2 separate regions of the Homo sapiens genome follow, and region 1 is linked to region 2. Evidence: fine-mapped expression QTL. A gene starts in region 2. The other region holds a variant in brackets. All regions are shown on one strand. Distances are between the middles of the regions. Region 1 has its middle 23 kb from the start of STON2. Region 2 holds the start of STON2 (stonin 2).

The links. PIP is the estimated chance that this variant, and not a neighbour inherited with it, causes the effect.
Region 1: its variant is the best candidate, but not a certain one, in a credible set for the expression of STON2 in visceral fat (GTEx, PIP 0.59).

The regions. Positions count from the first base shown.
Region 1 is chr14:81,420,306-81,425,689 of GRCh38, reverse strand. It overlaps a transcript of STON2 not described here. Among named protein-coding and RNA genes, the nearest start is that of STON2, 23 kb to the right of the region's middle. The variant A/G (reference allele first, on the strand shown) is at 2,235.
Region 2 is chr14:81,397,615-81,402,998 of GRCh38, reverse strand. STON2 (stonin 2) reads left to right here and starts at 2,675. Exons shown (of 8, transcript NM_001394390.1): 1 at 2,675-2,720; 2 at 4,419-4,704. The coding sequence starts at 4,617.

The DNA.
Region 1 (5,384 bases), 23 kb before region 2:
GTGTTTTAGTATTACGTATAATAACCTCATGTTTGCTCTTTGCCACCATGAGCCAGGTAAGAAGGTTCTCTCACTCTTCCCTAAGATACTAACCAATCTTCCCTACTTTTTTTTTTTTGATGGCAGAGTTCACTCTGTCGTCCAGGCTGGAGTACAGTGGCATGATCTTGGCTCACTGCAATCTCTGCCTCCTGAATTCAAGTGATTCTCCTGCCTAAGCCTCCCAAGTAGCTGGGATTACAGGTGTGAGCCACCGTGCCCAGCTAATTTTGTGTTGGTAGTGGAGATGGAGTTTCACTTTGTTGGCTAAGCTGGTCTCGAACTCCTGACCTCAAATGATCCTCCCTCCTCCTCAGCCTCTTAAAGTGGTGGGATTCCAGGCATGAGCCACCAAGCTCAGTCTTCTCTACTATTTTAAATCCAAGTTTTACACTTGGTTGGAAAATTCCTCTAATCCATTTTATTTCACTTAGCAAATAATAATATTCTGAATCTGTTTCTAAAAAACTCTCACTCTCAAAGCTAAATAAGAACCCAGAGATGTGGAGAATCACATTCTGAAGTCTTGTCACTCCATTCTCTAATTATTATGTCTGCTGTATTTGCATTTATGGTTTATATGCTTTGAATTTGTAGCTTTTCTGTTTTGCAAGAGTTACTGTCAGTGAGACATCTACCAAAAGAAATACTGCTATTAGTGGTGTCAGGACCAAATGTATGTAACAGTGTGGTGTGTTTCTAAATCCCTACTGTGGTTTTTGAGAAACTGTCTCTAAATGGGAGAGGGTGATGTGAAGACTGAAAGAAAAAATCTTTAGAAACAACAAAGCAGAAACATTAATAGGAAAGAGCTTCCAGTGATTAAATTTTTCTTTTGGTCTTTCAGATTGAGAAAGTAAGGAGAATAGGCATACATGGTGGGAAATTTCTATCAACTTGGAAAAAACAATAGAATACATAATTCTTAGCCACTGAGATGAGAGCCCAGGAAGTCACAAGGTCAAAGGATCCTGTCCCATTGTCTGTGGTGACAGCCTGTCCTCCCACTATAAGGAATGCCTTACCCTTAAACAATGGAAGTGTCCCTGAGAAGTTGAAGAAATGCATGCTGATGGAATTTTAAAAATCATATCATTGTAGAAGTACTCCAGTGATTATACTTTTCTGTATTTTCCATTTTTTTTTTTTTTAGTGAGAGTGTATTCTGTTTATAATAAAAACAGAAATCAGAAAAATATTTTTTTTTGATATGGTGTCTTGCTTTGTCATCCAGGCTGGAGTACAGTGGCGCGATCTTGGCTCACTGCAACCTCAGCTTCCCGTGTTCAAGCGATTCTCTTGCCTCAGCCTCCCAAGTAGCTGGGGTTTTAGGTGTGCGCCACCACTCCCAGCTAATTTTTATCTTTTTAGTAGAGATGGGGTTTCACCATGTTGGCCAGGCTGGTCTCAAACTCCTGACATCAAGTGATCTGCCTGCCTTGGCCTCCCAAAGTGCTGGGATTATAGGCATGAGCCACCGTGCCTGATTAGGAAAAATAAAAGAAGGAAATAAACTAGGAGTGTGGGGATGAGTGAGTTGTCACCATTGAAAGGTGCTCATTTGCTCACATTTTATACTGTGAGAATTCTTTTGTCCTGCAAGCTGTGGCATTTCATAACATACCTGCTCTCCACATTTAGAATTTACTTTAAACATAGGGGATGTCAGTAGTGCATTTCATGTATCAAAACCTCAGACTCCACTCTACCAAAGCAGCCAGGCCTCAGTCAACAGACATCGACTCTCGCACTGTGCCAAGCCCACCCAGTGTGTCCTGGTTCCTTGTGGCTGTCCCTGGCAGTTGGAGACACCCACATGCCCCAGCCTTCAGTCAGCAGACACAAACTTGGGATGCGTCGGTTTCTTGTTTGTGAGAGGCCTGGTTCACAAGGATAACATCATGATCAGCCAGGGGCCCCTGTGCAGCTGCCCCATGAGGCCACTGCAGCAGCCTGTGTTTTAGCCTTTGGCCAGGCTGTTTTGGTTTTATGCCCATGCGTCTGTTTTGTTGGGGGAAGAGGGAGGGGAAGGATTCTCAGAAAAGGGAAGGACGTATCCTCCGCTTTGCTGAAAACGGAAATAAGGAATTATCAGTTCAGGGTCAGTAGAAGCCACAGTGCCTGGCTTCCTTCTGCTGGGCTCCTCTGGAATAATTTTGTTTTGTTTTGAAAGGCCCGAAAGCAACTTGAGCCAG[A/G]TAAGTTGTTCTAGGGTGACAGTTTTTAACAGGGAGTCCACAGATCCCTAGGACTTTGAGAAGTGTGTCTGTGAAGTGCCTTAAATTATAATTAATGTTGCATGTATGTGTATTTTTCCAGAGATGAGAGTCTCTGGCTTAAATTATAACTCAAAGAGATTCAGAGAGCTATAATTTTTTGTTTAAAGGCTAAGAACCAGTTTCAAGGAGAGGCCTTCAAGTCTGAGTTGTACATCTTGGTCTTGGCCCTAACTTGAGAACTCTTCCTGGTTGGTGACTTGTGTACGTAGTGATAACATCAAGAAAAGTGTGCAGCGCACCTTAGGTATACCTATAGAAGGTCATGTTGCAGGAAGATGAAGATAGTTTCACTTTTTCAAGTGCTGGAAAGCTGGAAATCTAGAAATCTTTTTTTTTTTTTGAGACAGAGTCTTGCCCTGTCTCCCAGGCTGGAGTGCGGTGGTGCCATCTTGGCTCACTGCAACCTCCGCCTCCAGGGTTCAAGCGATTTTCCTACCTCAGCCTCTTGAGTAGCTGGGATTACAGGTGCATACCTCCACACCCAGCTAATTTTTTTTGTATCTTTAGTAGAGACGGGGTTTCACCATGTTGGCCAGGCTAGTCTTGAACTCCTGACCTCGTGATCTGCCCGCCTCAGCCTCCCAAAGTGCTGCGATTACAGGCGTGAGCCACCGTGCCTGGCCTGGAAGTCTAGAAATACTAGGTGGACCCACAGAAACCCGTGCACTTACTGAAGCCCATGCTGCAGAAAGATGGTTTCACTTCTTCAAATGCTGGAAAACTGGGCATCCAGAAATCTGTGACCTCTGTCCTAATGCCTCCTATTCTCTCCTTTCTCAAGCACACTCAGAGCTCCCTTAATATTCTGTATTATCATAGTATTGACTAGTTGGAATGAACACAAATATCTCTTTTACCTGGTGTCTCAGTGTGTTTGTGTTGCTGTTAAGGAACACCCAAGACTGGGTAATTTATAAAGAAAAGAGGTTTATTTGGCTCATAGTTCTGCGGGTTGTACAAGAAGCATGGCGCCAACATCTGCTTCTGGTGAGGGCTTCAGGTTGGTTCCACTCAGGATGGAAGGTAAAGGGGACCCAGGTGTGCAGAGATCACATAGCAAGACAGCAGAAACAAGAGAAAAAGGAGGAGGTGCCAGGCTCTTTTCAACTTCAGTTCTCGCAGGAACTGAGTGAGAACTCACTCACTCCTGTGAGAATGGTACCAAGCCATTCATAGGGATCTGGCCTCACCATCCAAACACCTCTTACTGAGCCCCACCACCAACACTGGGGATCAAACTACAACAGGAGACTTGGCAGGGCCAAACAAAGCATGTCCAAATCATAGCACCTGATCTTCTGCTGAGTTCTAAGATAATCCAGGCCCTCATGATGGTGACAAGATAACACATTTATGAGGAACTTCTTCCAAGTGGCTGTTTATCCTGTGCTAAACACAAATGACCTTCCCCAGGGTTCCAGCCTTGGTTCTTGTTTTTCCTCTTATTATTCTGAGTTACCCAGTCCAAATCCCCAGCTTCCAGTGGCCTCTCAGTCTGTGTTTTTAGCACTCATCTCTCTTCTTCTGAGCTCTAAATCTGCCTATTTAACAGGTCCTAAAGACAACATCTCAATGTGGTTGTCCCACGGGCCCATCAAATCACTGGGCCTAATGCTAAGCTCATCACCTCCCTTTTATGTCCCAACCATTCTTCCTCTTGAAGTCCTTATCTTGGCAAATGGTACAAAAATTGATCCAGTTTTCCAAAGGTTTTTTTCATCCACCTACTGCATCTTTACTTCCACAATCTCAATGAGTCCAAAAAAGATTCTATCCCCATATCTTGATAACATTACATCCTAAATGGCTGTAAAAACACCTTTCCTCTCTATCCCCCATCTTGCGATGCCTAATCACTCTAATTACTAGCTGGTCTTTTCACTCTCTGGTTGATCTCTCTCATTGCTTCCAGAATAACCTTTTTCTAAAAAACAAATTGGGTCATGTTATTTCCCTGCTTAAATTGTTTAATCGATCTCCATTGCCTTTATGACAAAACCCAGCCTTCTTGGCATGGCCTACTGGGCCCTGTCTGACCTGACTCCTAGCTCTCCAGCCTCCTGTCTTACTTTTCTCCTTCTGGCTCATTGCTTCGTCAAAGTAAATCACCTATAGTTCAGAAAACATATCTTTTTATTCATCTTCTGGACTCAGTAGGGGCATAATACATTTTTAATGCAGCTGTTTTGAGTGGAGGCCTTGAAAAAACTATTGCTCTTCACATTCCAAGTCGGGTAACAAAAAGACATCCTCATACCGTCTCAGTGCTTCATCCCATCCCTGCCCCCTGACCTATTTCTAACATTAATGCTGAATCTCAGGCCATCCTTGAACATGAACCTCATTTCTGAGCCTCTCGTCCTCCCTTCACATCATGCCTTATTCATGTCCAGATCCCACCCTGTCTGTGACACACACTGCAGGGGTTGGGGTCAGTGATGGGTGATGTTCAGGTGTGAGGTTAGGGAGGGGCAGGTTTGGGGGTGGACGTAGGAATCAGGGAGGTTGCATACACCCTTTGATAGCAAACAACAGTTTTGCATGTTAACGTGAGTGGTTAAGCATGGCTGAGTGCAATGGTACCCTCTTATTGACCATTTTGTATTGTCATGCTTTGTTCTTATAGATACCATCCTGCCAGCTTGGAATGTCCATTTTCTCCACCAGTGACCCCTGCCTCACAGAACTAATTTCTATTCATCTTTCAACCACTTGTTACCTTCCCTGTTATTCTTCACTGACCCCAAATTGGGCTAGGTGTCACTCCTATGCACCCATCGCACTGCTACATTCTCCTCATTGCCCTGGTCACACCATACTGTGATTATTTATTTGCCTGTCTCTCTCTCCAAGGCAGGTGCTGGATCTTAGTCCTCTCTCTGTTCTTAGAATTTCACAAGAACATCCCTAGCAATAGGAGATGCTGAATGCTTATTGAATGAATGAATGAATGAATGGGCGATGTTCTGTGACAGACTTCTAAAAACCTGCAGATGCTCCATGAGCATAAATAACCCAGAGTCCAATAAGACCTATTAGATCATCTCTTTATATTCTACGCATGTGACA
Region 2 (5,384 bases):
GTGCCAGGCACTATGCTCAATGCTGAGGGTATAGCATGCAACCCCTGCTCTCAGGAATCCTTTGTTCATTTCTCATACCTCATTTTATCCTGTGAGGAGACTTTGAGGAGCTGTAAGCAGAGCTGTAGCATAGCCATTTTCAGGTTTTAGGAAGATAACTCTACCATAATAGGCTGGATAGTAGGTTTGAGCAGGTGATACTGAAGGCAGGGAGACAGGTAGGAGACTTGCAACTGTCTGCGTGAGAGATCATGAGGGGCTGAGCCAAGGCATTGGCAGTGGGATTGGAGAGGGTAAGCTCCAGAGCTCAAACTCGTTCTGAAACTTAGAGCTCCTTTTCCAGGATGCTTGACACCCTCTTCAGATGAACAGAGTGTAACTCACTGTGGGCTAGACATACCATTCCTGCTCCCCCTTCCTGAGTGCCTGTGCCCCTCAGCTCTTTTGCTCAGACCCCTCCTTTCCGGCTTAGGGTACAGTTCAAGACCACCTATAGCTCAAGCTCTCAGAAGTCTCTTAACACTCTTACTTGCTGCTGTCCTACTTTTGGTGACTAACCACCAGAATAGGTTAGAGAGCAGAGGTTATTGTTTTAGGTTGCTGTGGTATCTCCCTGCAGTTGACAGCTGCTTGAGGGCAGAGATGCTGTTTTGTTCTCCCTTGACCCTCAGGCCCTAGAATGGGCAGAAACAGTACATGTTCCTGATGACTGTGCCCCCCAACTTTGTGAGACACACCGGAGGTACTGATGGCTGAAAAATTCCATCACCACGCTTCTGTCCAGCACTGTCTGAGGAAGGCTTATCTCCCTTAAGCACACTTCTTGAGTCACTCTCTGCTTTTAAACCTCCCACAGCTTCTCATTTCCCCTTGAACTCTCCTTAGCTTTTATGGTCAATCAATCCCTTCACTCCATATTCCCCCAGTAGATACCTCTGCTCTCATCAGACAGAGGCTTGTTCAGACAGAAACACACCTTGTTAAGGTCTGCTTCTGATTTTTACTGTCACTTGCGGTGATCCCCTGTCCAGAGGCTTCCCTCACTTGTCCCTCTGTTGGTCCAGAATCAAGGACATCCTTCACATCTCAGAAACCCACCCAGTCCCATATGGTTCCAACTCTCAGAGATCTCCCTACGGCTAAACTGTGGCAATTAGAGGACTGTCATAAGACAAAACTACTTCTATGACCCCCATCTTATCAGACAATTGCATTCTCCCTTCTACAAATTTTTGTATAATGCTGAGAAAGAAGTAGCTCTCTGAAATGGCAACTCCAAGACTTCAATGAAACTTTTAGCATCTGTTGGTCAATCCTCCTGCTGATACTGAGTCACCACTCATTTGTGGTGATTCTAAACCTCATTTTATGATTCACATTCTAAAAATGGGGTGAGGTTTTTACCAAGCAACTAATTCCAGTATGAACTTAACCTCACAATTATTGGGTTCTTCTGTGGGTTTCCAGCTGCTTAGCACAGCACTTTTCAAGGTCTGATTTCTTATGGCTTATTGGTGTGGCTCTTCCATGGCAAATACCTAAAATCCATTTTATGGATTTATGGTATGGAATATGATGGGGGGTTCCATGTGATCAATTTGTTCCACCAGTCTTCATTGGGACCACTCATTGTCTGTCACCAGCCCATGTCTGGTCTGGGACAAGTGAAGGAAGGATAGATAAAGTTTTGGGGCTCTTTTTTCGTTCATACGTTCTGAGGAATGGTCTTGGTACTTTGGCCAGAATGCACCTATATCTATAATGAAGAGGATTTAGAATCTGCCTTCTGGGCACTGTAGCTGAGCACATGACTCTACTTAGCATTTTGAACAATGACTGAAACCAGATTCTGCAAATGACAGAAATGCAGTGGTTTCATGAAATCTGCATTCCAGTCCCAAGACTTCTACGAACAAGTTACGCAACGTTGGGCGAGTCATTTAACAATAGCAGCAGTGCTGGCGATGGCTAACATTGGTTTGGAATGGAGCCTGGGGCACAGTAAGCCCTCTGTAAGGTCACCTGCTGTTTTCATTGTCATCGTTACAGAGGGTTTATTACATCCAGTCCTTAGTACTTGGCGTACATTATCTTGTTTAATCCTCGGAATTATGGAGTGAGTTTTATTATTCTTTCTGTACAAGGTTGAACTGAAGCTTAAAGAGGTTGAGTTATGAGTCCACGACTGTATAGGACTCCAAGACTGTATAGGACTCAAATCCGAACAACCTAACTCCTGGGCCTGTGATCACAATCTCTATTCGTGTGCCTGATTTCCTTGGGCCTCAGTTTTCTCATAACACCTGAAGTTGTTGATCTTTAAAACCTTTCAGTTTAAAATTTTTAAATATTTTCCTCTTACCTTCACCTTCGTCCCCTGTTCTCTTCCCTACCCCACTTATCCATGACTTTTGCTGGGTTCATCATTGCAGGATTGGCAGGATGTTTTCCCCATTGAGTGATGACACTGCATGTGTCAGCATAGGGACTTGTATTGTGGGTTTTTTTTTTTTTTTTTTTGACGGGTGCTGTGGGGCTGGTTTACATGCTGCTGTCGTTGAAAGAGGAGGAATCTGACTCTTCAATTTTACTGCCTTATCTTGGCCCGCAGCCATTACCACATTGAGTGACACACATTTGACAGGGCTTGAGAAAGTCGTCAAAGGCAGAAGCCAGTGGGAATCAGCTCTTTGTGCTTGTGGACCCTGCACTGCTCTCTGGTAAGATCTGGTTTGGGAGACCTGCTCTCTCCAGGCTGTTTGCCTATGTCTGGCCTTGTGGTTGGCAAGGATCCTAGGAGAGGGACTTGGAGAAGAGGCTTCTGGGCTTCCCATCCTTTATACAGCTTGGGGTGTGCTGGCAAACTTTCACATGGGGAGTTTCCCGGACATTTCATTACAGTTCCATTGTAATTGATATTTGTAAAGTACTTAAGTTGGGTGATAGTCTATATGTACTGTATTCTGTTGTACTTCTTTGCGGCTGTGACACCAGGGTTAGAGTGTTTTGGCTGCAGAAGACCTGGGCTCAAGGGTTGGATCTATCACTTAGTGTGGTGCTTCAAACACACCTGCTTGTTATGGCTTTTACTTGATTATTCTTTGGGTGAGATCTTATTATGAAGAAAAGTCAGCCACTGTGCTGAGATTTGTAAACTCTTCCACTTAGCCTGGAGGAAGCATTTTACCAAAAGGGCCTGGAAGCACTAAAAGTATTAGGTAAGTCACTTAATTTTTCTCAGCCCAAATTTCTTTATCCATAGAAGAATTAGAGTACTATGAGTCCTACTCATCAAAATGGCTACTGAATCAAGTGAAGTATGGTATGAAAATGTGTTTCTGAAAATTATAAATTCTATATAAACATTAGTTGTTTTTAGGAAGCATCATATGCCAAAACTGTTTTAAACACCAAAAAAGCAAAAGCTGTTCATGTTTTTACCGATTTTCCCACCTAGAGATTATTTACTGCAGATGATAACCTGTAGTAAAATTTCCTAAACTTTTCATTGTGCAGCAATTGGAAGACTGTGAGTTAAGTTGTTCTAGAAACTATCTGAATATTGTGTATATTTAGTTAATAAGAACTGATATTGTTCAAGGTATATAGTAGCTCTTCTATGGAAGCACATTAATTTTAGATAAATTCAGATTTTATTAATTCATTATAAATCATTATTAGATCAAGAGCTAGGTTCAGGTTGTAAAAAGATATTAATACCATGAACAAAATTATGTCAATTAAGAATCTTTCTGTATTCCTAGAACATAATTGCAGTGTGAGCAAAGGCTAGACCATTGTAACTAATTTAAATAGGCCTAGATTGAAAATGTTACTCTAACTCACATTTTTCACTACCACAGATGTTCCCTATCCTCTTACTCCAAATGAACAAGATCACTTCATTTCTATTTTTCTTGATTGATAAACCATGCTTGGAGATACCATCTGGAGATTGTTGGGTTTCTGCCAGAGATTTAAATCAGGTTTATAAAGAGTTACCTGCCTAAGGCAAGAAACTGGACTAATTTAATAGAAAAGAACATGCTTTTATTTTGCCAGCTAGTAAGAGAAAGTGAAAGCATTTTGAAAAGTTTTAATATTTGTTTAGCAATGATAGTATTATAGATGACAATATTTCTAAAATACAATAATTAGGGAAATTAGAGAATCTAATTGCTGAAATTTGTGTAATTATTTGCAAGTGTGATATGAAGGCTTATCTAGAAACCTTGATGCTAAAGACAGACATTTCAGTATAAAAGGTGAGGGCATGACAGGAACAGAGTGAAGTAAGGCAAGTTGGAAACCACCCCAAGCCTTCTTGTGGGCAGCGCTAAAAGCCCTAGACCTATGTGGATTCAGTGTAATGTGATGGTTATCCTTTTTAATTTTTTGTTTGTTTGTTTGTTAAACAGATTTCTGCCTGGCAGATTAACCAACGGCAAGAGAGGCTGATCTGTCTACATTCTGAGTACTGCCCTTGGCAAGACACCTAGAACAGACCCTGGACCCAAGTCTACCGTACTACCATACCCCTACTCCAGCCCACCCCAGACAGTATTCTGGGGTTCACCTGAGGTCAGCAGTGTGAAGATGACCAGTGCCTTTTTAGCATGACGACTTTGGACCATGTGATTGCCACCCACCAGTCAGAATGGGTCTCCTTCAATGAAGAGCCACCCTTTCCTGCCCACTCGCAGGGTAAGGAGTGCCTTCGTTTCCTAAAGTGAAGAGATTGTCAAAGAACCATGTCTATTTGTTATGGCTTCTACTTGATTATTCTTTGGGTGGGATCTTAATATAGAAAAAAGGGTCAGTTTCTCACTTTCTTTCTTGAGATCTTAGAATCCTAAGTGGAAGAATTTACACACTGAAAAAGCATCTTGGGAACCTTAGGGCCCTAAAAAGAGGCTTGGAAACACCAAAGGTAGTGGCTCTTTTCTCCCAAGAAACAAAAACTTAATATTTACCAAATACTTTACTCTCAGCCTTTTTAAAATGTAGTTATTAAAAGTAGTTGTTAAAAGTGACAGGCTCTGGAGCCAGAGTGCTTGGGTTCAAATCCCTGTTGCACCAGGGATGAGTGATATGCTTTTGGGTAGATTATTTATTTAACCTCTCCATGCATAGCTTCATTATCTGTACAGTAGGGATAATCAGTACCTATCTCACAGGTTGCTGTGAGGCTTAAGTGAATTCATACATAAAAGTGCTTAGAGCAGTGCCTGGCACGTGGAAAGAGCTCAGTACGGTCATCCTTGATCATAAGGAGGATGACTATATTGACTTTGGAGAACTTGTGCTCAGGGATGAAGGTCAAGGTAGGATCCAGGAGATATTTGCAGAGACATGTGAGTTGGTTCTGTTCTACTACAGCTACC